Regions from separate parts of the Homo sapiens genome. Here region 2 is linked to region 1. Evidence: fine-mapped expression QTL. A gene starts in region 1. The other region holds a variant in brackets. All regions are shown on one strand. Distances are from middle to middle.

Region 1 (16,860 bases):
CCACCACACCCGGCTAATTTTTGTATTTTTAGTAGAGATGGGGTTTTGCCATGTTGGCCAGGCTGGTCTCGAACTCCTGGCCTCAAGTAATCTGCCCACCTCGGCCTCCCAAAGCGCTGGGATTACAGGCGTGAGCCACCACACCCCGTGAGTAGAATGTATTAAAACATTTTAAAATTACACAACAATGGATGTTTATTTGTTCTCCTTTGAATGATCTTAGTGAGCCTCCTCACCCTTGCTGCAATACTCCTATCCTGGACTCCAGCTCCCATGTCTAACTTCAAGGTTGACTCATCCCGAAACTGACCTCTCCAACGTCTATCTTCATAAGGGATACTTTTTAAAACTGTTACTAGTTATGGGATACTTTTTAAAACTGTTACTAGTTACTAGGAGAAAATTGGAGAGGGTAGTGGATTTATTCACAGAGACAATCAGTGTTCCATATGAGCTAATAATCTCTGAATTGGTCTTTAATTCAATTATAGCCCCCAAATGGCAAATGGATCTGAGTGCCCAGGGTGGTCCATGGTCGAAGCGAGAGTAATGAGAAAGATCCCAAATACTTTCTTGCTTAAAGCACACCTCACATCTTTGCTTAAAGCCCAAGGGCTTAACAATGAAGGAGGGACGGCTTTCTAGATGAACAGCTGTTCTCCTACAGAACAAGGAGACCAGTTTTTCTTCATTTTTTAAAACCTTGGGGATAAAGCAAAAGACACTGGATTGAATGCAGCAGGAAGGATCTGGATTCAAAATAAGGAAGAATTGCCAAGCTGATGGTGAGAACTAGAAAACCTGGGCATGACCTGGCAGGAGCAGTTGTGCAAGTCCCTCCAGGAAGTCCTGAGTGTGGAAACATACCCTGACTCAGCTGCATTTATGGGGTGAGCATCAGCCAGGCCCTGCTGCCATCATAGGGCCAGGTGGGCTGGGCTGCCAGGGAGGCAGTAGTGTGAGATGGCCAGGGAGCTCACCCCAGCCAACGAATGGCTTCAAGCCATTTCCTGGGCAGGACTGGTCCTGTGGAACAGGAGGGCCAGTCAGGAACCTGAAGCAGCAACCAACTTGCCCATGAGGATTGGGCTCTTATCCACTGTCTTTCCTGACCAACTCATTCTCATCCTTCAGGATTTAAGGCAGATGTCACTTCCTCCAGGAGGCCCTCCCTCAGGGCACGGAGCACACAGAGGTGGACTCTAGGACTCACCTGCTTCCCTCTCTAGTTGCAGGTCCCTTAAGGGGGACTGTGGGTGATTCGTCATTGAGTCCCTTGTGACCTCCAGGTGCTTGGGAGATGGAGAAAATGAAGGAAGGGAAGTGGAAGCAAGGGAAGGAAAGTTGAAGCAAGGAAAGAAAAGAGAAAGGGACGAGGAAGAGAGGGAAGACAGAGAAAGGAAAACTCTTGTGCCCAGAGATTGTACAGATTGTCTAAAGAGTCTCACCCCTGCTGGATGGACAGTGGCTTTATCAGCAGCAACACTATCTCAGCCTCCCGGGCAGCTAGGACTCTGGCTGCCTACACATTTTTTGCTCCATGCAGGCCCAGCTCAGGGAGAGGTACTCAGGCCCAGGCTGGTGGTGCTGAGTACCAGGACTTGGAGTTAAGGGGGCTTGCTGTGGGCACAGTTTGGCAAGTGAAGACGGACAGCTCTGGGGGCCACAAGAGAGCTGGGTAATAGAAGACTTTATGAAACCTGTATTAGATCTAGTTCTTGTTCATTTCTACTTGCTCACGTTATAATTCCAGAGCTGTGTTCTTAGAGGGAAATGTACTTTTATTGAAATGTTTTTCATAAGATGACAGTAGCCTTTCCTGATTATGAAGAAACCCTGTTGGCTGGGCATGGTGGCTCATGCATATCATCCCAGCACTTTAGGAGGCTGAGGAGGGCAGATCACCTGAGGTCAGGAGTTCAAGACCAACCTGGTCAACATGGTGAGACCTCGTCTCTACTAAATATACAAAAATTAGCTGGGCGTGGTGGCAGGCACCTGTAATCCCAGCTACTCAGGAGGCTGAGGCCGGAGAATCACTTGAACCCGGGAGGCAGAGGTTGCAGTAAGCCGAGATTGCAACACTGCACTCCAGCCTGGGTGACAGAGACAGACTCCATCTCAAAAAAAAATAAAATAAAAATAAAAAATAAAGAAAGGAACCCTGTTATAACAAATATGAAGAATACAAAAATGATTTGAAATCCTAGAGATAACCATTGTCAACATTTTGTTGTATATTGTTCTAGAATGTTTATATACTTATATTTAGGTATTCTTATATTTGCATATTAATATATTTAAATATATAAAATATTTTTTAAAAACAAAAGGTGGAATCACATTATACATAGTGTTTTATAAACTGATTTTTTCCCCACTCAGTAATGCCTTACGAACTTTTCTTACCAGTAAATAAAATTTCACATCATTATAGTGGCTGCAAATATTTTACTTAATGAAGGTAACATAATTTATTTAACCTCTTTGGCCATTTATGATTTCCCCCCAGTTTTTTACTCTTAAAAACTACTTTTGGGAAAAGTGAACCCCGGCAACATCATTAAAAACAAAAACAACTATACCACAAAAGTCAGGTGAAAAAATCAGATGTGATTTTGAACTACAGTTTTAGAAATAACTTCCTTGTAAATAATCGACTGTATTGTTAATTAAGTCAAATATTGTGGGAGAAACAGAACGGGGCATATCTGAGACTGAAATAATTGATAGTGAGGTATGGAAAAGGAAAGTTTTCATTTTGAAAGGAACACTGAGCTTTCGCTGTTTTGCAAAAATATACTTGTCTAAATATAGTTGTTTTGAACAATCTGTTGCCTGTAATCATTACCTCTACCAATCCCCTGTGGTATTGTGTCCTTTCAGGGTACGAGTGTTGGTCTGTCTATAAACACTAGAGATTTCTCCCTCTTCCAGGCATTTTGCTAGCCTCTGAGGATGGAGCAGTGAATAAAACCCACCCACACCTTATCCTCCTGGCAGTTAGCCTTAGTGGAGAGGCACAAGGGCTGCCTGTCTGGTGAATGAGATGATACTGTTAAGCACACCAGGATGCTGGAATCTCCTGCCTCTTACTGGCAGATAACCTGCCCCTCCCAGAACTTAGAGAATACTAAGTGCACAGGACATACCTGCCACCAGACCATTCAGGTACATGGTGTTTTTACTACCATTTCTGAGATCAGGCAAGTTTCAGATCTGTTTTCATGAAGCTAGAAGAGGGCTTAAAAGTCACCTTGTCCAACTGACCTGGCCTGTTGAGGCTTGAATCTTCTCTCTATAAACCTGAAAGAATTAAAAGGATCAGAATCCAGTTTAAAGTTTATTCAGGTGAAAAGGTGAAAATGATCATCCAGGAGACAAAGACTCCAGAGAAATGGGATCCGTGCTCCAAAGTTAAGAGTTAAGTTCTTGCTAATACAGGTAGAAAACAAAGAAATTTAATGGGATTACAGCATTTTCTATACAAGAGTGGTATAAGAGTTACAACAAATTAATTAGTGATAGTCTGTTTTCTTTTCTCTACAGTTTGTTTTCCTTTCTTTACAGCTGATTTTCATTTCCTCACTCAATTTAAAAGAGTATATTTAACATTCCATCTTAAGGCAATGTGATAGCCATAAAGTCTTTATGTGAGAAACGTAAGAGGGAAGTTAATCTATAATGAAGATTAACAATCAAAGGGAAGGGTCAACATAAAAAAATCAAATAAATTTCTATATATTAGTAATAAACAATTGGAATTTGAAAAAAAAATTGAAGCTTTATTTACAATAGTACCAGAAAACATGAAATACTTAGGTATAAATCTGACAAAATATGTGCAAGGTCTGTCTGCTGAAAACTATAAACTAATAAAAAAAATCAAAGAGGCCAGGTGCAGTGGCTCACACCTGTAATCCCAGCACTTTGGAAGTCCGAGGCGGGTGGATCACCTGAAGTCAGGAGTTCAAGACCAGCCTGGCCAACATGGTGAAACCCCGTCTTTACTAAAAATACAAAAAATTAGCCAGGACCGTGGTGGCTGGTACCTGTAATCCCAGCTACTTGGGAGGCTGAGGCAGGAGAATTGCTTGAACTGGGGAGGCAGAGGTTGCAGTGAACCGAGACTGCGCCACTGCACTCCAGCCTGGGCAACAGGAGCAAAACTCCATCTCAAAACAAAATAAAACAAAACAAAAACAAAACAAAACAAAACAAAAACAAAGAAAACCTTAAAAAAAAGAAGAGGCATACCATGTTCACGGATTGGAAAATTCAATATTGCTAAGATATAAATTCTTCCCACACTGATTTAGATTCAATGCAATTCTAATAAAAATTCCAGCAGAATTTTTTTTTTTTTTGTAAAAGTAGACAAGCTGCCAGGCGTGGTGGCTCACACCTGTAATCCCAGTACTTTGGGAGGTCGAGGCGGGTGGATCACAAGGTCAGGAGATCGAGACCATCCTGGCCAACATGGTGAAACCCTGTCTCTACTAAAAATGAATACAAAAATTAGCCGGGCATGGTGTCGTGTGCTTGTAATACCAGCTACTCGGGAGGCTGAGGCAGGAAAATCGCTTGAACCCGGCAGGCAGAGGTTGCAGTGAGCCGAGATCACGCCGTTGCACTCCAGCCTGGGTGACAGAGAGAGATTCTGTCTCAAAAAACAAACAACAACAACAAAAAAAAGTTGGCAAACTGATTTTAAAGTTTGTATGAAAAGGCAATGGGGCTGGGCATGGTGGCTCACACCTGCAATCCCAGTACTTTGGGAGGCCAAGGTGGGTGGATCACCTGAAGCCAGGAGTTCAAGCCCAGCCTGGCCAACATGGCAAAACCCCATCTCTACTAAAAATACAAAAATTTAGCCAGGTGTGGTGGCGGGCACCTGTAATCTCAGCTACTCAGGAGGCTGAAGCAAGAGAATTGCTTGAACCCAGGAGGTGGAGGCTGCAGTGAGCCAAGATTGCACCACTGCGCTTCAGCCTGGGCAACAAGAGCGAAACTCCATCTCAAAAAAAAAAAAAAAAAAAAAGGAACTAGAATAGTCAGAATAATTTCAATCAAGAACTACGAAGTTAGGGAATTTCTACTAATTTCATGACTTACTCCAAAGCTATAATAATCAAGATAGTTGGTACTGGTGAGAGAATAGTATACATCAAGCCCGTCCAACCTGCAGCCCATGGGCTGCATGCAGCCAGGATGGCTTTGAATGTGGCCCAACACGAATTCATAAACTTTCTTAAAACATTATGAGTTTTTTTTGCAATTTCAAGAAGCTCATCAGCTATCGTTAGTGTTAGTGTATTTTATGTGTGGCCCAAGACACCTCTTCTTCCCATGTGGCCCAGGGAAGCCAGAAGATTGGACACTCCTGGTATATATAAATAGAACAAAATAGAGTCCAGAAACAGACTCACACATATATGGTCAATTGAATTTTGACAAAGCTGCAAAGGCATTTCAGTGAGGAAATAATAAACTTTTATTTTCATTTTTTTGAGACAGGGTCTCTCTCTCTCCAATGTCCAGGCTGCAGTGCAGTGGTCTGATCACAGCTCACTGCAGCCTTAACCTCTGGGGCTCAAGTGATCCTCCCACCTCAGCCTTCCAAGTAGCTGGGACTACAGGTGTGCACCACCAGGCCCAGCTAAATTTTTTGGTATTTTTTGTAGAGATGGGATTTCACCATGTTACTTAGCCTGGTCTCAAACTCCTGGGCTCAAGCAATCTGCCTGCCTCAGCCTCCCAAAGTGCTGGGATTACAGGTATGGGCCACTGCGCCCAGCCAAGAATAAACTTTTCAACAAATGGCGCTAGAACAAATGGACATCCATATGAAAAAACTAAACAAAACAAACCTCAATCTATACCTCACATTACTTACAACATTTAACTTAATGTGGATCATAGGCCTAAATGTAAAATCGAAAACAATAGGACTTCTCAAAGAAAAGATTTCTTAGACACGACACCAAAGGCATAATCCATAAATTTTGGGGGATAAATTGTACTTCAACAAAATTAAGAAGTTCTGATTTTTTAAAGACTCTGCTAAGAGAATTAAAAGATAAATAATGGTCTGGAAGAAAATATTTTCAACTTACGTATCTGATAAGTGACTTCTATTTAAAATATGAAAGAACTCTCAAAACTCAATAATATAGCTCCTCAAAAAATTAAAAATAGAATTACCGTATAACCCAACAATTCTACTTTTGGGTCTATAGCCAAAATAATTAAAAGAAGGGTCTTGAAGAGATATTTGTACATCCATGTTTATAGCAGCGTTATTCACAATAGCCAAAAGGTGGAAGCAACCCAGATGTCCATCTATGAATGAGTGAATACATAAAATGTGGTGGGTGTGGTGGCTCACATCTGTAATTCCAGCACTTTGGGAGGCTGAGGTGGGAGGATTACTTGAGTCCAGGCGTTCAAGACCAGACTGGGCAACATAGCCAGACACTATTTCCATAATATATATATATATATGTAATAAAAATACAAAAAAACCCACAAAATGTGGTGTCTACATGTAATGGAATATTATTCAGTCTTAAAAAGGGAATTCTGACATATGATACAACATGAATGAACCTTGAAGACATAATACTCAGTGAAATAAGCCAGTCACAAAAGGGCAATACTGTATGATTCCACTTACATGAGGTATCTAGAGTAATCAAATTCATAGAAAGAAAGTTGAACGGTGGTTGCCAGGGGCGGGGGAAGGGGAGAATGGGAAGTTCCTGTTTGATGGGTACAGTGTGTCAGTTTCGCAGGACGAAAAATTTCTGGGCCCAGCACGGTGGCTCACGCCTGTAATCCCAGCACTTTGGGAGGCTGAGGTGGGGGGAATCACTCGAGGTCAGAAGTTCGTGACCAGCCTCCATGTAACAAATCCAACTAGCCAAGACTCTCATGCCAAAGAGGCACATGTAGGTGGTCTGGTTGACAGTCTCAAATGGAGTCCTCTGCCAACTGTCAGCATCTTCTGCCAGTGGTGAGTGAGTCATCTTGGACACCCAGCCCATTTGAGCCTTCAGATGATGACAGCACCATCTAGTATCTGACCATAACTACTTGAGAAATCCTCAGCAAGACCTGCCCAGAGAAGCCTCCCAAATTTCTGGCCCACAAAATCATGAGCAAAAAACCTATTGCTTCAAGCAGGTATGTTTGGGGATCATTTGTTATGCAGCAGTAGAAACTAGAACATTGAAACTCTTGCTTTCTTATCTTGCCCCACAGAAAAGTATATATTCTCAGCAATCAGAAAGACAATAGGGCAAAAGGCAGGAAAAGCTCTAAGTTTATTGAGTCCTACCACAGGACAGATACTTTACAATCCCACCTAGCATAACCCCCATGATTCTGTGAGTTGGGGACAATGTTTCTTTGTCAAAAAGAGAAAGGTAGAGTTCAGAGGGGACAAGGCTGTCAGATTGCAGAGGTGGTGCTCTTTCTGCTGGAGCTAAATGTCCCAAAGTAAGACCGCAGAAGCAAGAGTCAGGCAAGAAAGTTTGATTTCACAACATATTGTTGCTAGGATAAAGCCCTCAGGAGCTATGTGATCCTTTTAAAGGATAAAGTGTCCATTTTGCTTCCCTCCTTCCTCCCTGCAATTAGTCAAATGGCAGGTGGAGCATGTAGTCTGTGAGGCAGAGCTGAGGAGTGAGAACTTTCATAGAAACTTCCACTTACAACCAGGTATGGTGACTCATGCCTGTACTCCCAGCACTTTGGGAGGCCAAGGCAGGAAGATCACTTGAAGCCAGGAGTTTGAGATCAGCCTGGGCAATATAGTGAGATTCTGTCTCTACAAAATATTTTTTTAAATTAACTGAGCATGGTGGCCCTTGCCTGCAGTCCCACCTACTTGGGAAGCTGAGGCATGAGGATAGCTTGAGCCTAGGAGTTGGAGGCTGCAGTAAGATGTGATCACACCACTGCACTCTGCCCTGGGTGACAGAGAAAGAGCCTGTCTCTAAATAAATGAACAAGTAAATAATTTTTTTTAAAAAAGGAAATGTTCAGAGCGTTGCAGAGTGTTACAGAGAGGAAACTTCTAGAGTCTTCACACTTGCAAATCACTTCCTTTAGCTCTCAACTCATTGAAGACTTGAGCTGAGCCCTCCAGGTGGTCAATTTGAAGACATATGAGGCATAGAAGTGCCTTGGTGAGTCCCTATTATGGGCCGGACGCTGTGTGCACTATCCATGATCCTGCAAGAATGACATTGCTATCTCCCATGGCAGATGGAGAAACAGTCACAGGTGATTAAGTTATTTGTCCCAAATGTCACACAACTAGGAAGTACAGGCTAAAGAAGGGTCCCAGTGCAGCAGAGTATGGGTGAGTAGGCAGGCAGACAGGCAGTGTGGCCCCACTGGCACAGAGCCCCGAGGCAGAGCCTCAGAGACACCAGTTCAGGGTTCCTGCAAGCTGCGGACCAGGAGAGGAACTAGCAGAATGTGGGGTCCCCAGAGGACATAGAATCAAAGATACTAGAGAGAGAACAATGTCCTCATCAACATGGAGCTGATGGAGCAGAACCCCTAAGGATACTGTTTCACATTCATTTACTCCCCAGCTAGCAGGGATTGTCTGATCCAACCCCTCGATTCTGACATATAAGGCAACTGAAGCCAGAAGGAAAAAGGGACATGCCTGAGGTCCCCCAGCTTGCCAGAAGCAGGGCAAGACAAGAGTTCCTATTCCTGATTCAGGGTCCAGTGCTCTTTCAGAGGCACCTTCCTGAATTCTGAGATTAAACTCAGGCTTTAAGTAGGGTGACCCTTTCAATTTATGATCCAAACCAGAATAAGGGCATTATTAATAATTACAACAGGATGGCAGGTGTCAACAGGACTGCCCTGTGCAAATGGGACACACAGTCATTCTAGCATGGCATTCTAGAATGCCACCCACTTGCCCACCAGGAAAGCCTCTTCACAGCCTTATGGTTGTGGACCTGACAACTCACTGTCATCCTCCATGCCAGGTGAGGGGCTGATGGACCAAGCAGCCCTGAGGGTCTGGCTTTCCTAGGGGTCTTTAGGGAGCTCAGAACTGGCTGCTCCAACACTGGCCTCTGTCCCCACCTGGCACTGTGTATGCATAAACAGAGGCCCCATTTGTTCCCACGTATCAGGGGCAAGCTCCCTGCCAAGCCCAGTGGAACTCCAGTTTTAGGTGCTTGCCTCTGGGTGATACCCACTGAACCAAAGCTGTCCTCACTGTGAGACTGTGAATGTGGGGCTCTCCTATGGAGCCCCAGGACAGTGGAAGAAGGCCCCTGCTGGCTTGGTAGCCAGGTCACGGCAGAAACTATAAGGATGTGAGAAGCACACCAAGTGGCATAAACTAGCTGTGCTGTTTCTTCCCCCTCCTTCACTCCTCTGTCCCCAATAGTCACCAGCTTCTGAAACGTTACCTTACACACACATCTGCTGGGGATCTTGTTAAACTGTAGATTCTGATTTAGGAGACCTGCAGTGGAGCCTGAGATGCTGGATTTCTCACAAGTCCCAGGTGATGCCAATGCTGCTGGCCCAGGTGCCACTTGGAATAGTAACCCTCTCTCACAGCATCCTGCTCACTCCCTCCAGAGCAGTAATCATAACTTGTCATTGCTTTCTTATGTGGTTGTTACTGATTGCAGCAGATGTTGCAGTATTTCAAGCCTGATAATCACAGGCTTGAAAAGCACATGTGTGTTGGGCTTGTCCTCTTGGGGAACCCTGCTGCTGAGTGAAGAGCCCATGCTAGCCTGCTGGCGGCCCCTGGCTCAGCCAACAGCCAACATCAACAGCCAGACCTAGGAGTGAGACCATTTAGATCATCCAGCTCCAATTGCAGCCACATGAATTAGTCCAAAAGAATCACCCACCTGAGCCCAGCCCAAACTGCTGACCTGCACAACGGTGAGCACATAAAATGGTCATTGTTTAGGTCACTAAGTTTTGGAGTGGTTTGTTACATGGCAATAGATAACTGATACACTGGTTTAATATCTATGTTAGGGGTGGGACTAGATATGTTTTATTTGGTATGTTACACCCAGTGTTTTGAATTGATGAATAAATGAACTAACCTGGATCTGTCTGATTCTAAAACCCAAGAGTTTCTGCTCCACTGTTTCTGCTCCCTGTTCCCAGACAAGTTGCTCATCCTGGGTCTAGTGAGGTCAAAGTTAGGGTATGTAATCCAGCCTAGGTTAATTAGTGCTTTCCAGTCTACAGTGATCAGTTAAGGGATGAGTGTGTGACCTAATCTAATCCAATCAGATTGAAACTCGGGACTTTCACTGAGAATGGTGGGGAAAACACCTTCTCTTCTCCAGTCAATATAAAGAAGAAATATAGGAATAGTTTCCAAAATCTGACTAATCAGACCTAATCTGACAAGTCACTATAGGAAGGAAGGACTTACACAGGCCCACTGCTATGCTGGGCTTTAACATTTTAGTTGCATTTTGGGGAGGTCCAGGATACTCCCATACTTGGAGGGTGAGAGCATTTAAGCTCTGAGTAAAGTCTTGTCTGATGCTAAAACTACCACTGAGCTTCCAAATCACACGAGTCCAGAAATATATTTGTTTCAGCCAATAGGGCTGGACTTCCTGTTGCTTGCAATTATCAAGCAACAGAATGCTTCCTAACTGGCCGACCTTCTTTCTTCTGGGAATCTAACTCTCCTTTAAGGTCAACCAGATGATCCAGACACTCTAAAATTAACCCAGGTTTAAGCCAGAACAAGAGAAGAATGAATCCCTGGGTGGACGCACAACATTCCCTACAGAATCAGCTTTACTCTCCTGTGTTTTGCCAGAAGAAACATTTCATAAAACTCGTCTTTGAATCTATTGGAAAGATGTTCTTGAGGGTGTGGCTTCCCACTTTCCACAGGGTCTTTCTGGTCTTTCAGCTGCATATTCCTAAGCAGTAGATTAATTTTCTACCACATGGACAGTTATGAACTATGTAACTAACTAGTTTTCCCTTTTGGTCTTGGCTGCCAGGAAACTTTACACCAAATATGTACCCACTTGCAGCAAAAGTGCACAACTCCATGGTCTGTCTTTTTACAGTAGCTTCATTACTGGTTCAATTTTATGTCGTTAGCCTTGTTGTACCGTATTCATTTTTACTTCCTTTGACTTATATAATCTTGCTTCGTTTTGTGTATCCTTATAAGAAAATAGGAGTTATAATTTTTTAAAAAAACACTTTGATTTAGGCTTGGTTAAAATGAAAAGAAGCTACAGGGAGTACTGTTATATCAATCACTTTGAATTTCAGTGAAGGAAACAGAAGGGAGGTATGGAAGAACATATACATTCCAAGGATCTCAAGAGCATAAAGAATCGACACCAAGGCCAGGTGCAGTGGCTCAGGCCTGTAATCCTAGCACTTTGGGAGGCCAAGGTGGGCAGATCACTTGAGGTCAGGAGTTCGAGACCAGCCTGGTCAATATGGCGAAACCCCATCTCTACTAAAAACACAAAAATTAGCTAAGGCGTGGTGGCAGGCACCTGTGGCCCCAGCTATTCGGGAGGCTGAGGCACGGGAATTGCTTGAACCTGGGAGGCAGAGGTTATAGTGAGCTGAGATTGCACCACTACACTCCAGCCTAGGTGACAGAGTAAGACTCTGTCTCAAAAAAAAAAAAAAAAGAATCAAGACACCAAAGTGGGAAAAAGCTTTTAAGTGCAGGTGGCCTCTAGAAGAGGGGGCAAGCAAGGAAACAGATTCTCCCTGAGCCTCTAGAAGGAACACAGCCAACACCTTGATGGTAGCCCAGTGAGACTCATTTTTAATTTCATACCTCCAGAATTGTAAGAGAATAGATTTCTGTTGGTTAAGCCACCGAGTTTGTGGTGATTTGTTACAGCAGCCACAGGAAATGAATATAGGCCCCATTCAGACCTGCTGGGTGGGAGACTCTGCAGGTGGGGTCTGGCGTCCTGTATTTACCAAACTCTTCAGGGGGTTCAGAGGCACGCCAAAGTTTGAGAACCACTGCTCTTAAATGGTGGTTCTTGACCTTCGTGGAACATCACACTCATCCGGGGTGTTTCCAAAAACACTCGTACCCAGCTCTACTCCCAGAAATTCCAATTTGATTGGCTACGGTAAGGTTCAGGCGTTTCATTTGTAAAAGCTCCGTCTACTGTTCTAGTGCTCTGCACTGCCAGAACTGGAAAGCTGGGCTTCCCTTCCCACTTGCTGCTTCCCACTTCTCACTTCTGCCTCTGCTTCCACCTTCTCTTCTCTAGATGTTGGGTCCATCTTAGTCTCCTCTTTCCTTCTTGGCTGAACAGTCGTGAGGCTTCCTCCTGAAATGGCAAGGGATGAGTTTGCCAGTATTTCTAACTAAAGAAAAATTAATTTATAATATGCTATATAATTTTTATTATATGTTAATATAATAAACTCAATACTGTCACAAACCCAATATTCTGGTTCAGGGGACAGATTTAGTCACACACTCCTAGAAGAGAAGGATGTTGGAGAGTGTCTAGCCCCACAACACCCTTTCTAGTTTGGGAAACTGAGGCCCAGAAAGAGAAAGTGACTAGTCCAAGGTTACAGAAGGGAGGCACAGAGCCTGGGACCAAACCCTGGTCTTCTGATCTAAAGCCTGCTGTCCTTTCACCTTCTAACTTTACTCTGGCTCTGTTCCCTGCACTGGAATATAGAGGACTCCAGGCAAGGATCTGGCTCTTAAAAAAAAAAAAAACCAGCCACCCCCTCTCTCCCCATTTCTAGGCAAGGCAGAAGGGGGCCCGTGCAGCAAGCAGGTGCTGGAACCTTCTGGGGATGACCTTGAGCTGGGTCTGGATGGCAGGAATGATTCTGATGACCGATAAGTCTCGATCTTGGGGGAGGAGAGGCAGTCAGCTGAGACTATCGCACCTGGGAAGCAACCAGCCAGGTTGCCACCTGCCCTGGGCAGGACAGCAGCCCAGAGAAAGAGAAGGATGGTGGGGAGGGGTGAGGAGAGGCCAGGCCTGGGCCAAGGGCCTGCAAATAGCCTCCTCCTGACTGCAGGGGCCCTGGGCTAATAGAGGCAGAGAACTGCAGTGAGGTCAGGTCCTCTGGCACCTGGTGCCTGTCTACGCCCTCTCTTAACACGTGCAGGACCGCCGCCTGCCCCCCTCCCCGGCAAGGTTGTACAGCAGAAAGAGGGGTGAGATGGAGGTAGTGAGTGGGTATAGGGAACTCACCCTGGCTGCCTTGTGGCAAGTTTGGGAGAGGCAGTCGTGTGGAGTACTTAAAGGCACAGGCAGTGTTTGGAATCACAGAATCTGTCACTTTCAGCTGTGTGACCTGGAACAAGTCCCTGAGCCTCTCTGGGCCAGTCTCCTCTCCTGTAAAATGGGGATGATTCCTGGTTCTTGTGAGGAGTCTGAGAAAATACATGTACATGTGTGTGCATTTGGGGCTCAGAAAATGGCAGGCAGCAAGCATCATGAAGTGTCCAAACTGCCTGGGTTCACATCCCAGCCCCACCCCTTTCTACCTAGCCGTGACCATGCTGTGTCTATTTCCTCTTCTGGAAAATGGGCTGGCAGTAGCACCTACCTTATAGGAGTCAGTGAATTAACAGATGCAAAATGCTTAGGACAGGGGCCTGGCTCAGTGGGTGCTCCAAACCACCACCTTTAGTTTGGCTTCTGATATCAATGCTGCTGTGTACCCATCGAGGACTCTCATGGCAAGACTGGGAGAGGCAGTAGTGTGAAGTCCTTAAAGTGCTAGGTCCTAGGAGGTCTTCGTACTCACGTAAACATTTATAAGACTAGAGAAAAAAAATTACTGGCTTCAAAATATGAAAGGAAAACTGCAAAGTCAAAATTAGTGACCCTTTTGCTAAATGTCCACAAAACACACTATTACTTCAACTTTATAAACTATGTCTGAAACATGTCATAACACTTGAAATCAATTTATTGGCTAGATTATTCTCCTTCTTCAAGAACTTAAGTGACTAACGATGACTAAAAAATCAGAACAAGCATAACTTATGTAACTCGTAACAAAAGAACTTCACATGCAAAATTACAAAAATTATTTTAATAGATCATTGTAACAATTGAAAAAAAGGCAAACACTTTAGATCTCTGTAAGGAATATATATAAAGTTTAAGGAAATAAATGGGAACAATATCCTCCAAATTTAGGGTGGTAGTTATCTCTGCTGTAAGGAGAGTGGATCAGAGAGGCCACACAGGATGTTTCAACCCTCTAGGTAGCATTTTATTTCTTAAGTTAGGTGGTGAATCCCACAGATTTGTACTGTATTATTCTTTGTCTCCTTTTTGTACATATGAAAAATGTTGTAACAAAATTTAAAAGTATGGTTTGGTAGCAAAAAGAAGAGCAAGAAATGTCCCCGGATAATTTCAAATTATTTTATGGCAAATTTGTATTTAATGAGAAATGTTAGGGATTTCACATTCCTACATAATGTCAGGCAGGGTTTCCAAAAGCAAGTCCCCAAGGCCCTGACTCTACCAATGGTCCTCCAGGCCCCAGACCCCTCACCTGGTGTCTTAGCTTGCTCGGGCTGCTATAATGAAAATGGATGGCTTAGCAGAAATTTATTTCTCACAGTTCTGGAGGCGGGAAAGTCCAAGATCAAAACACTGGTGGACTCAGTATCTGGCGAGAGAGGTGAGGGCTAGGAGATGGGGTGGAAGGCTGGACTCAGGGGCAGCCTCAGGATGGAGCAGGCAGCCTAGACCCTTGGCTAATGCCAGTCTCTGCTAAGTTCAACCCTGGGGGAATTTGTCCAATTCTTGGCAGATGCAGTCTCTGTTGTCAAGGGTCTAAAGGTCAGTGGAGAGAGATCCACAAACAGGCATGAAAGAAGGTAAACACACTGATTACCTTAATTTACTGAAAGGCTGTGGCAGGGGTCCCCCATCACCACCCTGTACTGATTTGTGGCCTGTTGGGAACCAGGCTGCACAGCTGGAGGTGAGTGGCAGGCTAGCGAGCATTACCACCTTAGCTCCACCTTCTGTCAGATCAGCTGCGGGATTCAATTCTCACAGGAGCTCCAACCCTGTTGTGAACTGTGCATGTGAGGGATCCAGGTTGCATGCTCCTTATGAGAAACCATACCCGCCGCCCCTACTCCCTCCATGGAAAAATTGTCTTCCACAAAACCAGTTTCTGGTACCAAAAAGTTTGGGGAATTCTAGGCTATGGGAACACATCATTCTTTGTGGGGAATATAGGAAGCATCTCCTTTAAAATCCACATGAGGACAATGCCCACTGTCACCCCTTCTACCTAGCATGGCTGCAGAGGTCAAAGTCAGGTCATAAGACAAGATAATGAAATTAAAGGAGTAAAGTTCAGACAGGAGGAAACAAAATTATAGTGGCAGATTATGCGATCACATTGAAAACCAAAAGAATCAATAAACAAATTATTAGAAACAAAAGAATTAGCAAGATGGCTGACTATACCATCAATAATAATCATTTTAATTTACATTGACTCCCATTATACATACTAATAATAGCAATAGTTAACCTTTCCTTTTTTTTTTTTTTTTTTTTTTGAGACGGAGTCTCGCTCTGTCACTCAGACTGGAGTGTAGTGGCGCAATCTCGGCTCACTGCAACCTCCGCCTCCCAGGTTCAAGCGATTCTCCTGCCCAGCTTCCTGAGTAGCTGGGATTACAGGTGCCCACCACCACGTCCAGCTAATTTTTGTATTCTTGGTAGAGACGGGTTTCACTGTGTTGGCTAGGCTGGTCTTGAACGCCTGACCTCAAGTGATCCACCCGCCTCAGCCTCCCAAAGTGCTGAGATTACAGGCGTGAGCCACTGTGCCCGGCCTAGTTAACCTTTCTTAAATCAACATGCTTTGCACTCACTCTATGCTAAAAGCTTTCTATAGATCAGCTGTGTGCTTTGAACTACCCTGTGGAGTTGGCACTATCATCATCCCCATGTTAAGAAGGAGAAAACTGACAGTCAGAGAGATCAAGCAAATTTCCCATGGCTACATAGCTGGTGTGTGATGGAGGTGGGACCGCTTCCTATTACCTGCTACCTCATCCTGCACACTCCAGTGCACAAATCTCTGATGTCCAGGGTGGGACTCCAGATCTCAGGCCTTTCTCTCATTCTCTGCACATCACGAAAGTTTCCAATATTACTGTGTGAGCAGAGAGAGAGGGAAGGAAGGAAGGAAGGCCCAGTAGGGGCAATGAAACTTCCCTCCAGCCTACTGCAGTCAGACTTAACCTGAACTAAAGAAAATAAGTAAGTGTGATGTTTCTTGCGCACCTGAATTGTGGCTGCAAAGTTTCGCGTAGTGTGTTTCCTTTAATCTTATTCAAGCCTCAAAAGAGCTGTCTCCATTTTACCAATGAGGAAAGTGAAGCTCTGAGAAATTCAGAGACTTGTTCAAAGTCATGGAGATGGAAAGTGGCAGAGGCACTGTTGGATCCTAAGCTCACCGACCAGACATCAAGCCTGTTTAGACTTTTTCAAGGAGCTAGCAGGGAGGCAGACAGGGGCACAGTCATCCATACGGCAGTGTGGTGAGAGTGAGCCCTGGATAGACACCTGTGAGGACAGGAGCAGCTGAGGATTATTATTATGAGACAGGTTTTTAATTATTATTATTATGAGACAGCTTCCTGGAGGAAGTGGCTTTAAGCTGGGTGTTCAAAGATGAGTAGGAAAGAGCCAGGAGAAAAAAGCACTGAAGAAAGCATCAGGTGCAAAGGCCCAGAGTTGATAGAGAAGTGGGAGGTTCTCTCAACAGCCGGTAGCTCAGACAAGGCGGGAAAGAAACTGGCTGAGGAAGTCTTCTGTA
Region 2 (14,138 bases), 19 kb before region 1:
GCGGTCAAATAAAAACCTCATCCCGGTGTTTTCCCTACTAGTTTTTCACGGGGAAAAGGAGTTTGTGCACATCTGACAATTTCCCACGCATGCCCTGCAGAGGCCGGCGAGATGCGGAGTCCGCGGCTGCAGGGTAGATCCCCTCCTCTGCCCAGCTCTGGGCCGAGCCCTTGGCCAGGTGGGGACCGGCGCGGATATGCCTCCGCTGGGCCTGCAGGCGGCGAGACTTACTTGGGTAGCGATAGTAGAATTCGTTCTCCATGTCGCTCAAGTTCTTGTGCGTCCTCTCTGACCACCAGTGGGCGTCGGCCTCGAAGTCGTAGCGCACGAACACCCCGAAGAGAATCACCATAATCACCTGCAGGAGCAGGCAGGTGAGCGGCAGCCGCCAGCGGAGGTTGGTGTTCCAGGCCATGCTGCAGGGGTGCCTGGCCGGGCTGGCAGCGGGCGGTTCGGACGCTCGGAGGCCGGCGGGGCTTTTGAGACCCGGGCAGGGGGGCGGGGCGGCCACGTGGGGCACGGAGCAGCTGACTCGGGCACCGCCCGCGCGCTCGCCCAACTGGCAGGGGCCCAACCCAAGCCGAGGGCCCCAAAAGATTCCCCGCGTCGGGCTGGGGGACAGCGGCAGGAGCAGAGGCTAAGGCAGTGGGCAGGAGGATCAGGGTGCCCCAAATTCTGTGTGTCCCGTTGATACTGGGGCCTTTCTCCTTTTGTTCTGCTGAACAGAGAAACACGGGGATCATTGGCCTCCCAGTGAGATCAGAAGGAATTCCCAGACCTAAGTCATCATCATCAACATCATCATCATCTGCCATCATCATCTGCATCATCATCTGTCCTTTCTTTTTCTGATTATGAAATTCATACAGGGCACATGAGAAACAAGGAATGTTTGGGACACTGTCACACAACAGAGCGGCCTGGGGAGACATCTGTGATGTGCTACCCCAGACTTGACCCTGGAACAGAAAAAGGATGTTAATTGGAAAACTGGTAAAATCCAAATAAAGCCTGAAAATTAGTTAATAGTGACGTTCCCATGTTGTTTTCTTAGTTGGGACAAATGTCATGGTTATGTAAAATGTTAACAGTAGGATAAACTGAGTAAGGGCTATATGGGGACTGTCTTTGCCACTTTTCTGTAAATCTAAAATTATTCCAAAATACAAGGGTTTTAAGAAAAAAAACACGTATAAAGGATTGTAAGAACAATTTAAGAGTTTTTCACAAGTTCATTGGTCCATAGTCAGGAACTGTCTTCTGGTTAAGATCTGTGATCTTGACATGAGTTAACCATAATATTTAGGTCTGGGAATTCCTTCTGATCTCACTGGGAGGCCAATGATCCCCATGTTTCTCTGTTCAGCAGTATAACAGTCTGTATATTGTCTGCTTAGTCTGTATATTGTCAAAATAAATTTGATTTTCTAATTTTTCTTTAAAAATACAGAGATAATTGTAGAGATTTGGAAAATACAGAAAAACACAAAGAAGAAAGTAAAAATCACTCATAATCCCACCACCCAGAGGCAATACTAATATTTTGGTGTATGTACTCTAGTCTTTTCCTAGCTCATTGAAGAGGGGCTGGAGGGGAGCAGGGGGAGTGTTTCAAACGATCATACTAATTTATAGCGTTTTTAACTCCTTTCATATTTTGTAAACACCTTCCCATATTATACTTCTACAACTTTTTTTCTTTTTCTTTTTCTTTTTTATTTATTTATTTTTTTGAGATAGGGTCTTGCTCTGATGCCCAGGCTGGAGGGCAGTGGCTTGATCATGGTTCACTGCTGCCTTGACCTCCTGGGCTCAAGTGATCCTCCCACTTCAGCCTCCCAATTAGCTGAAACCACAGGCATGTGCCACCAGGCCCACCTAATTTTTTTTTTTTTTTTTTTTTTTTTTTTGAGACAGGTCTCGCTCTGTTGCCCAGGCTGGAGTGCAGTGGGGTGATCTCGGCTCACTGCAAGCTCCGCCTCCCGGGTTCACACCATTCTCTGGCCTCAGCCTCCTGAGTAGCTGGGACTATAGGCGTGCGCCACCGCGCCCGGCTAAGTTTTTTTTTTTTGTAGAGATGGGGTCTCCCTATCTTGCCCAGGGTGGTCTTGAACTTATGGGCTCAAGTGATCCTCCCACCTCAGCCTCTCAAAATGCTGGGATTACAGGCATGAGCCACCACACCCAGCCTGCCACAACATAACTTTTATAGCAGGATATACTGTGCTTTATCTAGACAATCCCTAGTGTTAGGTGACGAGCGATGAGGTCATTTTTTATTTGTTTAGTATTACAAATCATGCTGTCATGAACATCCAGATATGTAAGTCTTTGCACAACTTTCTGTGAATTCCTGGAGGCAGAGCTGTTTCAATACATATCTCTAGATGTTCCCCTAGAAAGATTTTACGAGACAAAGCATGCACCCTGTGAGCCAGGGGTCAGTGACTTTTCCCATGCACTCTTGCCAATGCTGGCTTTAAAAAATCTTGCCAGTTGAAATCCCAGATTTGTAAAAGCCACTAATGCCATGTATAACATCTGAGGCTAAGCACCTAATCAGGGTGCTTGGAACTTGAGTGTGGCCACACTGTGCCAGCTTGGGGTACCAGGGTATCCCCACTCCCTTGGCAAAGAAGCAGCCAGACACTGCATGAGCAATACCAGCAATAGGGACCATTTATTAAGTTCCTGCGGTTGCCGGATCCTTTTGATATATATTTAAATTCTCAACTAAACACTTGTGAAGTGGACATTGTAGGTACATGCTACAGTTGAAAAACCTGAGTTCTCAGATTGGCTAAGGAACTTGCTGGAGATTCAAACCCTGGGCTGTCTGATTTCAAAGGCTGTAGTCTTTCTACTGTGCCATTCTGCTTGTCCCCTCTGGAAGGAGCGAGAAGGAGGGTTTGACTTCGTGCATGTGCATTCACTGCTGGGGAGAAAAACTTCAAGTACACGGCAATGGGAGTAAGTGGAGGGAGGGAGACAAGGGCTGGGGTGGGGGAGGCTGCTGCAAGTAGATTCATGAGCATCTAGGTTCCCCACAGGAGCAGTGGCGTTATGGGATAGAGGGCAGTGGGTGGCGTGGTCCCTGAAGCCTGGGCCGGGAGGGGGCAGGTGGAAGACCTGCTCACCAGGCTGGCCTGCTTAAAGGATAGGGAAGCCGGGGTGTCTTGCTCATTGTGAGAACTGCCCTCCCATCCAGACCTCCTCCAGAGTCCCCTAGCACACCTGTGGTGCTGGAACCCGGGACCCCCTTGGGGGACTCCTTGATGGGGCAGGGTACAGGGTCCAGGAGAGAGACGCTGACTCACAAGCCCTGCAGAGGCTCAGTGGGACAGACCTGGAGCCACAGCCAAGCACGGTCACTACCCACAGCCAGCACAAGAAGGCCGTTTGCCCTTGACCTTCATATTTGGTAGACTCAAGGTACAAACGATGGGCTTCAGACTACAAAGGGGATACAAGGTTCAAGGGAGACACTGTTATCAGATGGTTTTTTTCTTGGGTTACATTTCTGGGCCACTCAACTAATATAGGTCATCATGAATTAACATTCAAAAACAAGTCCTGGCCGGGCACAGTGGCTCACACCTGTAATCCCAGCACTTTGGGAGGCTGAGGCGGGTGGATCATTTGAGGCCAGGAGTTTGAGACCAGCCTGGCCAACATGGTGAAACCCCGTCTCTACTAAAAATACAAAAATTAGCTGGCTGTGATGGCAGGCGCCTGTAATCCAGCTACTCGGGAGGCTGAGACAGAGGAATCTCTTGAACCCGGGAGGTGGAGGTTGCAGTGAACTCCAGCCTGGGCGACAGAGCAAGACTTCATCTCGAAAAAAGAAAAAATTATTTGTTTATAGTATATCAACATACCATAGTATTTAACCCTTTATGGTATTTCTCCCTTTGTTTTATTCCAGGAAGCTGCTAGGTCTCTCTTGACCTCAGTGAGCCCCAGCAATCACCAACCAAGGAAGGGGCCCAGGGAGCCTCTTCCAGTCCAGAAGTCTTCTCTTCATCCCTTTCTCTGCGGCAAGACCAACTGTCAGAGCCTCCACAGCCTGAGGGCCTGGGTGGCGTGACCCCTGCAGAATAGGGGGAGCAGAGGGAAAGCTAGGCATTGACGTCCCTGGTTTTACTTCTGCTTCTTGAGTAGTTGTGTGACCCTGGGCAAATTGTCAACCTCTCTGAGTCTCTACTCTCTCATCTGTAAAATCGAGACAGTTATCTCCCCTCGGGTCTTGGTGAGACTTATTCTGAGTAGCTGGGACTACAGGTCTGTGCCACCATGCCCATCTAATGTTTTCTGTATTTTTGTAGGGGTGGAGTTTTGCTATATTGCCCAGGCTGATCTTGAATTTCCAGGCTTAAGTGATCCTCCCACTTCGGCCTCCCCGAGTGCTGGGATTACGGGCGTGAGCCACTGCACCCAGCTGGTGAGACTTATTCTGAGATACAGCATGGCGAAGAGCCCAGCACAGTGCCTGGCATGTGACATGCCCTCAGTTCCTGTTCATTTTTTTCCTAGTGCCTGGAACAATTGAAAAGCATGTGCCACTTGAGATTCTGCAGAGAAAGATAGGTAATCAAGGTTGAAGAACTGAGGCAGGTAAGTGT[A/G]GGATGGTGGAAGGAGTCCTGGCCTGGTGTGGGTCCAGTTTCTGTCTCCCTCTGCTGGTGATCTCAGGCAAATTCTTAGCCTCTCTGGGCTTGCGTCCTCACCTGTGAAATGAAGATTGTGAATGGGTCATTTCCAAAGCTGCTTCTAGTTGCAAGGTGCCCCCCAGCCCAGAGGAGCTAGCCCCTCTGTTGCTTTTCCCCACTCACATGCAGCCTTCTCTCTGGTTGGACAAGCCGAGTGCATTGCTTCACAGCCTCTTGCAGCCCTGCCAGGACCTAAGTCACCCAGGAAAGGCCTCACCCTTGATCCTGGAGTGACCTCAACCACATTCACTGTGTCTCATCCTGTGTGGGGTTTGCAGGCTGCCCTCTTCGGCTTCCTCTGCCTCTCCTCCCAGCATGCCCTCTTCTTCCTTTCCACATTCTTCTCTCTTTCCCACACCCAGCATCCTCCCAGCCACATCGATCATGGCACCTGTCCCCTGTGTGAGGTCCTACCACCCGGAGACAGTGAAGCCCTCTCCTAGTGCCCCCTGCATAATATTTGAGAAGATGAGACCACAGACAGCAGTAGCAACTGCTAGCACCACCTCTGCAGGCTCTACAGGCCCAGTTACTGGAGGTCCAAGTTGAAAGTTGGGCTAGGACAGAGAGCTTTTGGGATGAGGGGGGTGGGGAGCACACCACCCTCTGAAGTCATTCATTCCCTAGAGGGTCCATCAACTCTGTTAAGACAGGGGTAACATCTTATTTATAAATCTGTCCCCTGCTCACAGTATAGTGTGGGGGCACAGAAGAGGCACTTGGGGAGTGTTCTTGAAGGATTGAGGAAGGAATGAATAATATTCTTTGAGCACCTAGTATGTGCCAGGCACTGTTTCAGGTGCTGAGACATGGCAGTGAACAAATGAAGCAACAATCCTAGTCCTGGTGGAGCTGGCATTCTACGAATGGTGGGGAAGGTTGGCAAACAACCTGGTAGTATGTACCTTACTTATCTACTGTGTTTAACAATAGATAGGTAAAGCAGACAGCATGTGGGAGGGTGATACATGCTGTGTGGAGCAGAGGGGAGGAAAGCGGGAGAGAGGAGGCCAGGAGTACAATGTACACTGAGCGGCCAAGGAAGGCCCCATGGAGGGAGGCGGGGAAATCAGTTCATCTGCCGGTGCCCTAGTCCCAGCCCACAGCATTTTGATGTGACTGCCCTTTTTCTTTTTCTTTTCTTTTCTCTTCTCTTCTCTTTTTTCTTTGCTTTGCTTTGCTTTTCTGAGACTCAGTCTCACTCTGTTGCCCAGGCTGGAATGCAATGGCATGATCTCGGCTCACTGCAACCTCCACCTCCCGGGTTCAAGCAATTCTTCCACCTCAGCCTCCCGACTAACTAGGACTACAGGCACCCACCACCATGCCCAGCTAATTTTTGTATTTGTGTAGAGACGGGGTTTCACCATGTTGGCCAGGCTGGTCTTGAACTCCTGACCTCAGGTGATCCGCCAGCCTCGGCCTCCCAAAGTGCTGGGATTATAGGCGTGAGCCACCACGCCCAGCTGTGACTGCCCTTTTCTGAACACCCCAGGCAGCTGTCCCCTTCCTCAACTGCCCTTGGTATTAGTAAAGGCCAAGCTCTCAGTTTCTCCCCTGGGTGGCCGGCAGTTTTATTTCTGGTGCTCCTGGAAGAAAAAATGGCCACTATTCCAGAAGCCTAGGAAAAATGTCCCCTCCCAGAACATTCTGTCTCCAGCTCACATAAGGCATGGCCAGCAGCCTGCCCGCCCACCTCAGGCAAGGCCCAGGTGCTCTGCGGAGTGTCTGTCCTTGTGGGTAAAGGGGGCTGGGGCTAGAGGGGATTGATGAGACAGCGGGAGGGTGGAGGGCTCTCTCCCCACTCTCTCCTATCCCAACCTCCACGTCAAGCATTCATACACTGTTTCTTCCTAGCGCTTCTCGTATCTGTCTATGGTGTCTTCCTACATTAGAACATCAGCACCCAAGGGCAAGGACACCTAGAAGAGATCCTAGCTTGCGGTTGTTGCCCATTAATTATTTTTCCAATGGAATGAATGGATGAATGGATTCTTTCAATTTATTCAGTTATTTAAAACATGTACGGAGCACCCACTGCACACAGCTCCATATCAGGCCCAAATAACTATATAAGCATGCCCCCCAGATTTGCACCATAGAAAAGGAGATACAAGTTTGCCCCAGTGGTTAAAGCAGAATGAGCACTTTCCTGTATACCTGAGGAGAGCTTGATGGGCCCTGGGGTGATCAGGGTGGACTTCATGGAAGAGGTGGACTTTGATCTAGGATTTGCAGGGCAGATAATAGGTAGACCTTCACCCTCTGCCCTTTGGCTTTTCTTGTCTCATGTATGCCCTACCACATGATTCCAGGCTACCTCCCTCTCCCCACCCCAGCTTGGTACTTCAGATGACAACCCAGAGGTGGAATTCTTGCCTTGTCCTCTGAGATGGGGGTTTAAGAAACCTGCTGCTCAAGTCTAACAGGCCAGGCAGGGGTTTTCCTAAGGAACCGGCCTCTTCCTCCTAAAATGTGTGTGCCTTGACAAGCAGGGATGACTGACGGCTGGGACGCGATGGTTCTTTCCCCAGCCAGGGAGAGGCAGGGTGTGGTAGCCACGTTGGCAGGCAGGGAGATGGATTTCGAGGCAAAGGTGGTTCAGGCTGTCTTTCTTCCAGGTGAGGTGGAGTCTCCCCTGCTCTGGTGTGGCTGTGTTGAGGGCGTGGTGCTGGGACTGTCCCTGCTATCACCCTTCTCTCTACTCATCCCTCTTGATAGATGACTGTTTGCATCCTTGACATCTCTGGCCTTGGTCCCACACGCAGCCTGAGGCTGTGGCGAGACACTAGGCCAGGACTCAGAAGTTCTTGGGGCTGGTCCCAGTTTCACAAATTTTGTCAGATCACACCCCCTGTCTGGGCCTGATTTCCTTGATTTGCAAATGGGTGCCTCCGTGTCTGTGCTGCTCAGCTCTCATTTTGCTGTGATGCTCAAAGACCATGCAGCTTGGTGCTTAGCACAGTGACCCAGAGGCTCTAGGAGGCCCGGGCTCCAGTCCCAGCCCTGCCACTTCCTAGCTGGGGGACCTTGGGCAAGCTGCTTAACTTCTCTGGGCCTTGGTTTCCCCATCCATACAGAGGGTGACAGGAGTACCTGGGATGACCTTAATGCATAATGATGCTTTTAACCCCGAGACTGGTAGTATGTACTTGATGAAGTGGCAGCTTTTACTATTTGCCACTAGAAATGAATGGGGGCTGAGCACAATGGCTCAGGCCTGCAATCTCAGCACTTTGGGAGGCTGAGGCAGGAGGATTGCTTGAGCCCAGGAGTTCAAGACCAGCCTAGGCAATATGGTGAAACCTCATCTCAAAAAAAAAGAAAAAAAGAAAAATAAAAAGAAAAGAAGCAATAGGAAAGTCTTTTGTAAACTGAAAAATGTCACAAATATAATTGGTGCTGCTTCTATGACGGTGGGTAATGGCATTCCCCTCTGGTGCTCTCTGAAAAGTCTGCAAAGGCAGGGCCCAGGAGAGGGGGTCCCACGCCCTCCCTGGAGTTGGGAGCGGGGATTAGGGCTGGGGGAATGGGCTAGGGGCCCCGGGAAGCAGCTCTGGACATGCCTCCATCATCTCTAGTCCCTCAAAGCCACAGACAGGGCTGCCTCCCCATACTCATGGGAGATCTTCAGTGTAGGTGGCTTGTGGAGTGAGGGGAAAGGGTGTAGGTCTCTCTGCAAAACTCTCTTCCATGACAACTTATGGGATCAAAAATAAGAACAGCAATAGTGGGGAACTGGACATCATGTGCTGCTCCCTGATGGGCTGCTCCAAGAAGGACACAATCCCAAATGTGCTATTCCTGCCAAAAATGCATACCCTGAATTTAATCACGCAGAAGCAGCAGACAAACTCAAATTGAGGGATATTCTGCAAAACAACTGGTCTGGAGTCTTAAAAAGAAATGTAGGTGTGATGGATGTCAAAAACAAACAAACAAACAAAAAACAAGGAGGGCAAAGATTGTAGGCTAAAGAGACGTGACAAATCCATAAAATGCTTTGATTGATTCTTGATTGGCTCCTGGATCAAGACAAAATCTTAAAAAAAAACGCTATTGGAACAACTGAGGAAAAGGAACTAAGAATGGTATATTAACTAATGGGATTTATTAATGCAAAGTTTTTTAAGGGTTATCATTGTATTGTTGTTATATGGGAGGCTGCTCTTTTTCCTAGGAGATGCCTGGTTTCGAGGTAAAATGTCATATGTCTCCAACACACACAAACATATATACTGAGAGAAATGAAACAAAAGTGGTGAATCCAGGTGAAGGGTATATGCATGTTCATTGTGCTATTCTTGCAACTTCTCTGTTGGCTTGATAATACGTAAAACAAAAAGTTGGGAGAAAAGCCATTGTGGTGCTATCAACCGGAGTCTCTGATATCTACTAGAAAATATCAGCCTATCCAAGGCCGGGAGCAGAAGCCAAAGTCAGAGACCCAAGGCGAGTCCCACACACCCTCTACCTAATTACAGTTCAAACCCTGTGGGGCTTTCTGTGTGTTGTACAGCATAGGGTGAGCACATACCAGGCGCTCAGCACCTACCCCATCCCTGGCACTGTAAAGGCACTGAGATATCAAGATGTGACTTCTGTTCTTTCAGGGCAAACGGTTCAAGGGAGGGTCTTCACTCACTTCTTCATGCTACTGCAGAGTATGTTGTCCATACAGCAGTCCAAAGGCTCACAGATAAACCTCAGGATTCCCAGGGGAAGATGGAAACAGATTAGTGACAGCAGCAGCCTCCATGAACTGGGCGCTCCTAGGAGTCAAACACGAAGCTAAGCCTTGTCTTTGTCTGCCCATCACCATGTGTCCTTTTCATGACAGCTGACCATGCAGGAAGGGATTTTTTTTTTTTTACAAGGTAGAAACTCTGGCTCAGAGAGGTCGATCACTTGTCTAAAAGTCACCCAGCTAGAGGGTGGCAGATCTGAAGAAGAAAGCAGCATGATCTCAGCCGTGAAGAGGTTTAACAAGTTGGCTTAGTGGAGAAGGGCATGCCACGAGCAGCTTGAGGGAAGATGTGGAGGAAAGAAGGTGAGGGCAGGGTTCCTCAACTTCAGCACCAATGACATTTGGGGCCTGATCAATCTCTGTTTTGGGGACTGTCCTGTGCGTTAGCAGCACCCCTGGCCTCTACCCACTGGATGTGAGTGGTCAGGAGTATGACCATCCCCTCGTTGTGACAACAAAAAAGGTATTCACATATTACCAGATGTCTCCTGGGAGATAAAACTGCCCCAGTTGAGAACCACTGGGGTATGGCATCTACACTCTGCCTTAAGCTGGAGGTAATCTCTTGGCACAGCCTTGCTCCTGGCTGGAGGACTGTATCTCTGCCCCTGAGGGTGGGCAGGTGGACAGGGCCTGGTAAGCTCTGCATTATCTCTGTAGGACCTCCCGCAGGGCAGGGCCTCAGGTGCTGGCTGCAGCTCCTCCACCACCACTGTCTCACTTCCATTTCTGCCTTGGCTGCTGTGATGGTTAATTTTACAGGTCAACTTGACTGGGCATGGGGTGCCCAGACATTTGGTCAAACACTATTCTTTCTGGGTGCGTCTATGAGGGTGTTTGTGGATGAGATCATCATTTGAGTAAAGCAGATTGCCCTCAAATATGGGTGGGCCTCATCTAATCAGTTGAGGGTCTGAATGGAATGAAGAGGTTGACCCTCACTCCGAAGGAGAAGGGAACTCCTTCTGTCAACTGCCTTCCAGCTTGTGGTACCAGTGCTTTTCCTGCTTTCAGACTTGAACTAAAACATTGGCTCTTCCTTGGTCTCTAGCCTGCTGACATTCAGACTAGAACTCCACCATCAGCTCTCCTGGGTCTCCAGCTTGCTGACTGCAGATCTTGGGACTTGGCAGCCTCCATAATCATGTGAGCCAATTCCTTATAAAAACTCTCTCTCTGCTTCTCTCTCTCTCTCTACACACACACACACACACACACACACACACACAGTTGACCCTTTAACAACATAGGTTTGAGCTGCATGGATTCACTTATACACAAATTTTTCTCAATAAAAAGTGCACTGGCCAGGTGCAGTGGCTCACGCCTGTAATCCCAACACTTTGGGAAGCCAAGGCAGGTGGATCACGAGGTCAGGAGATTGAAACCAACCTGGCCAACATGGTGAAACCCTGTTTCTACTAAAAATACAAAAATAATTCGGGTGCGGTGGTGGGTGCCTGTAATCCCAGCTACTCAGGAGGCTGAGGTAGGAGAATTGCTTGAACCCAGGAGGTGGAGGTTGCAGTGAGCCAAGATCACGCCATTGCACTCCAGCCTGGTTGATAGAACGAGACTCTGTCTCAAAAAAACAAAACAAAACAACAACAACAAAAATGCACTGAGTGTGCCTGCTTCTCCTGCCTTCCCTTCCACCTCCCCCACATCTTTCTCCTCTGCCATTTCTGAGACAGCAAGACCAACCCCTCCTCTTCCTCCTTCTCCGTCTACTCAATATGAAGATGAGAATGAAGACCTTTATGATGATCCACTTCCACCTAATGAACACTAAATATATTTCCTCTTTCTTATGATTTTCTTAACATTTTCTTTTCTCTTGCTTACTTTATTGTAAGAATACAATATATCATACATATTACACATGAAATATGTGTTAATTGACTGTTCATGTTATTGAAGGCTTCTGATCTGCAGTAGCCTATTAGTAGTTAAGTTTTTGGGGATCAAAAGTTATATGTAAATTTTTGATTGCCTGGGAAGTTGGTGCCCCTAATCCCTGTGTTGTTCAAGGGTCAAATGTTTATGTATATAGATAAATGTTATATATAATATATATGATATGATATATGTCAATGGTATATATAATATATATGATATGATATATATCAATGTTATATATTATATATAATATGATATATAAATATTATATAGAATATGATATATAAATATTATATAGAATATGATATATAAATATTACATATATAATATATAAATGTTATGTATAATATATAATATTATATATAATATATAAATGTTATATATAATATATAATATTATATATAATATAATATATAAATGTTAATATAATATATAATATTATATATAATATAATATATAAATGTTATATATAATATATAATATTATATATAATATAATATATAAATGTTATATATAATATATAATATTATATATAATATAATATATAAATGTTATATATAATATATAATATTATATATAATATAATATATAAATGTTATATATAATATATAATATTATATATAATATAATATATAAATGTTATATATAATATATATTATATATAATATAATATATAAATGTTATATATAATATATATTATATATAATATAATATATAAATGTTATATATAATATATATTATATATAATATAATATATAAATGTTATATATATTATATATAATATAATATATAAATGTTATATATAATATATTATATATAATATAATATATAAATGTTATATATAATATATAATATAATATATAAATGTTATATATAATATATAATATAATATATAAATGTTATATATAATATATAATATGATATATAAATGTTATATATAATATATAATATATACATAATATGATATACAAATGTTATATATAATATATAATATTATATATACATAATATGATATATAAATGTTATATATTATACATAATATGATATATAAATGTTATATATTATATATAATATGATATATAAATATTATATATAATATGATATATAAATATTATATATAATATGATATATAAATATTATATATAATATGATATATAAATATTATATAATATGATATATAAATATTATATATAATATGATGTATAAATATTATATATAATATGATGTATGAATATTATATATAATATGATATATGAATATATATAATGATATATAAATATTATATATGATATATAAATGTTATATATATTATATAATATGAGATATATAAATGTTATATATATTATATATAATATGAGATATATAAATGTTATATATAATATATATAATATGCGATATATAAATGTTATATATATTATATATAATATGAGATATATATGTTATATATTACATATAATATGATATATATAAATGTTATGTATTATATATAATATGATATATAAATGTTATGTTATATATAATATGATATATAAATGTTATGTGTTATATATAATATGATATATAAATGTTATATGTTATATATAATATGATATATAAATGTTATATGTTATATATAATATGATATATAAATGTTATATGTTATATATAATATGATATATAAATGTTATATGTTATATATAATATGATATATAAATGTTATATGTTATATATGATATGATATATAAATGTTATGTTATATATAATATGATATATAAATGTTATATGTTATATATAATATGATATATAAATGTTATATGTTATATATAATATGATATATAAATGTTATATGTTATATATAATATGATATATATAAATGTTATGTTATATATAATATGATATATAAATGTTATATATGTTATATATAATATGATATATAAATGTTATATATGTTATATATAATATGATATATAAAAATGTTAATTTTTATGGGGACACCTGAAACACAGTATATATACTATATATATATATATATATACATATATATATTTATGCAAAATGAAATCTCACATGTCTAGTTCATGCACCATGGTCAGACTGGGATTGGGTTAAAGGCCTTATTTGGAAAGGTAAATGAGATGGGAAAAGAAGACTGGCTTGAGGTTTGACTGCAGAGGCGTACTATATGTATATAGTATGTTTTGAGTGTCTCCATAAAAACTTATGCTGAAATTTAGTTGCCACTGATGGAACTGGGAGGTGGGGCCTTAAAAGGTGATTGGGTCATGAGGGTAGAGCCCTCACGAATGGATTAATGCCATTAACACAGGATTGAGTTAGTTCTAGGAAGTGCATTAGTTCTCACAAGAGCAGCTCATCATAAAGGTGAGCTTAGCTTGCCCTTGCGGTCTCTTCTGCATGTACTTCTTTGCCCTCTCCCCTTCTGTCATGAAAGCCTTCACCAGATGGTCAAGCAGATGCTGGTGCCATGCCCTTGAACTTCCCACCACCATCCCCCACCTAGCCACTATATGGGTTGTTAGATATTTTGACCACCTCCTCTTCGCTCACTCCACTATTCAACTCACTGCATCATCAATGTACTTATTACAAACCTGTCACAAGCCAGGTCTTATGCTAGGTGCTCCTCTCAACAGGTTCTTGAGCTGGCAGGGGAGAGAGAGACATTCAAACACCAAGGATTAATATACCATTACAGGTTTAAAGACAGAGGCCTATAAGGGTCCCCTGGCAGTGCCATGGAGGTAGGGCATGGTCGGCTGTACCTGTAGAGGTGTCTAAAGGGAGGC

Which allele goes with the higher level. Positions count from the first base shown, and alleles are read on the strand shown. Sizes are in standard deviations (SD) of each study's normalised expression.
As copies of A replace G in region 2, the expression in esophagus mucosa of the gene that starts at base 9,903 in region 1 goes down (moderate effect, 0.50 SD a copy in GTEx).

What was found.
Region 2: its variant is fine-mapped to the expression of LINC00928 in esophagus mucosa (GTEx, PIP 0.96).

What each region holds. Positions count from the first base shown.
Region 1 is chr15:89,514,132-89,530,991 of GRCh38, forward strand. It overlaps LINC00928 (long intergenic non-protein coding RNA 928), which reads right to left and starts at 9,903. Exons shown (of 3, transcript NR_027077.1): 1 at 9,450-9,903.
Region 2 is chr15:89,496,130-89,510,267 of GRCh38, forward strand. RHCG (Rh family C glycoprotein) reads right to left here and starts at 454. Exons shown (of 11, transcript NM_016321.3): 1 at 232-454. The coding sequence starts at 415. It overlaps LINC00928 (long intergenic non-protein coding RNA 928), which reads right to left. Exons shown (of 3, transcript NR_027077.1): 2 at 13,944-13,994; 3 at 8,801-9,649. The variant A/G (reference allele first, on the strand shown) is at 4,623.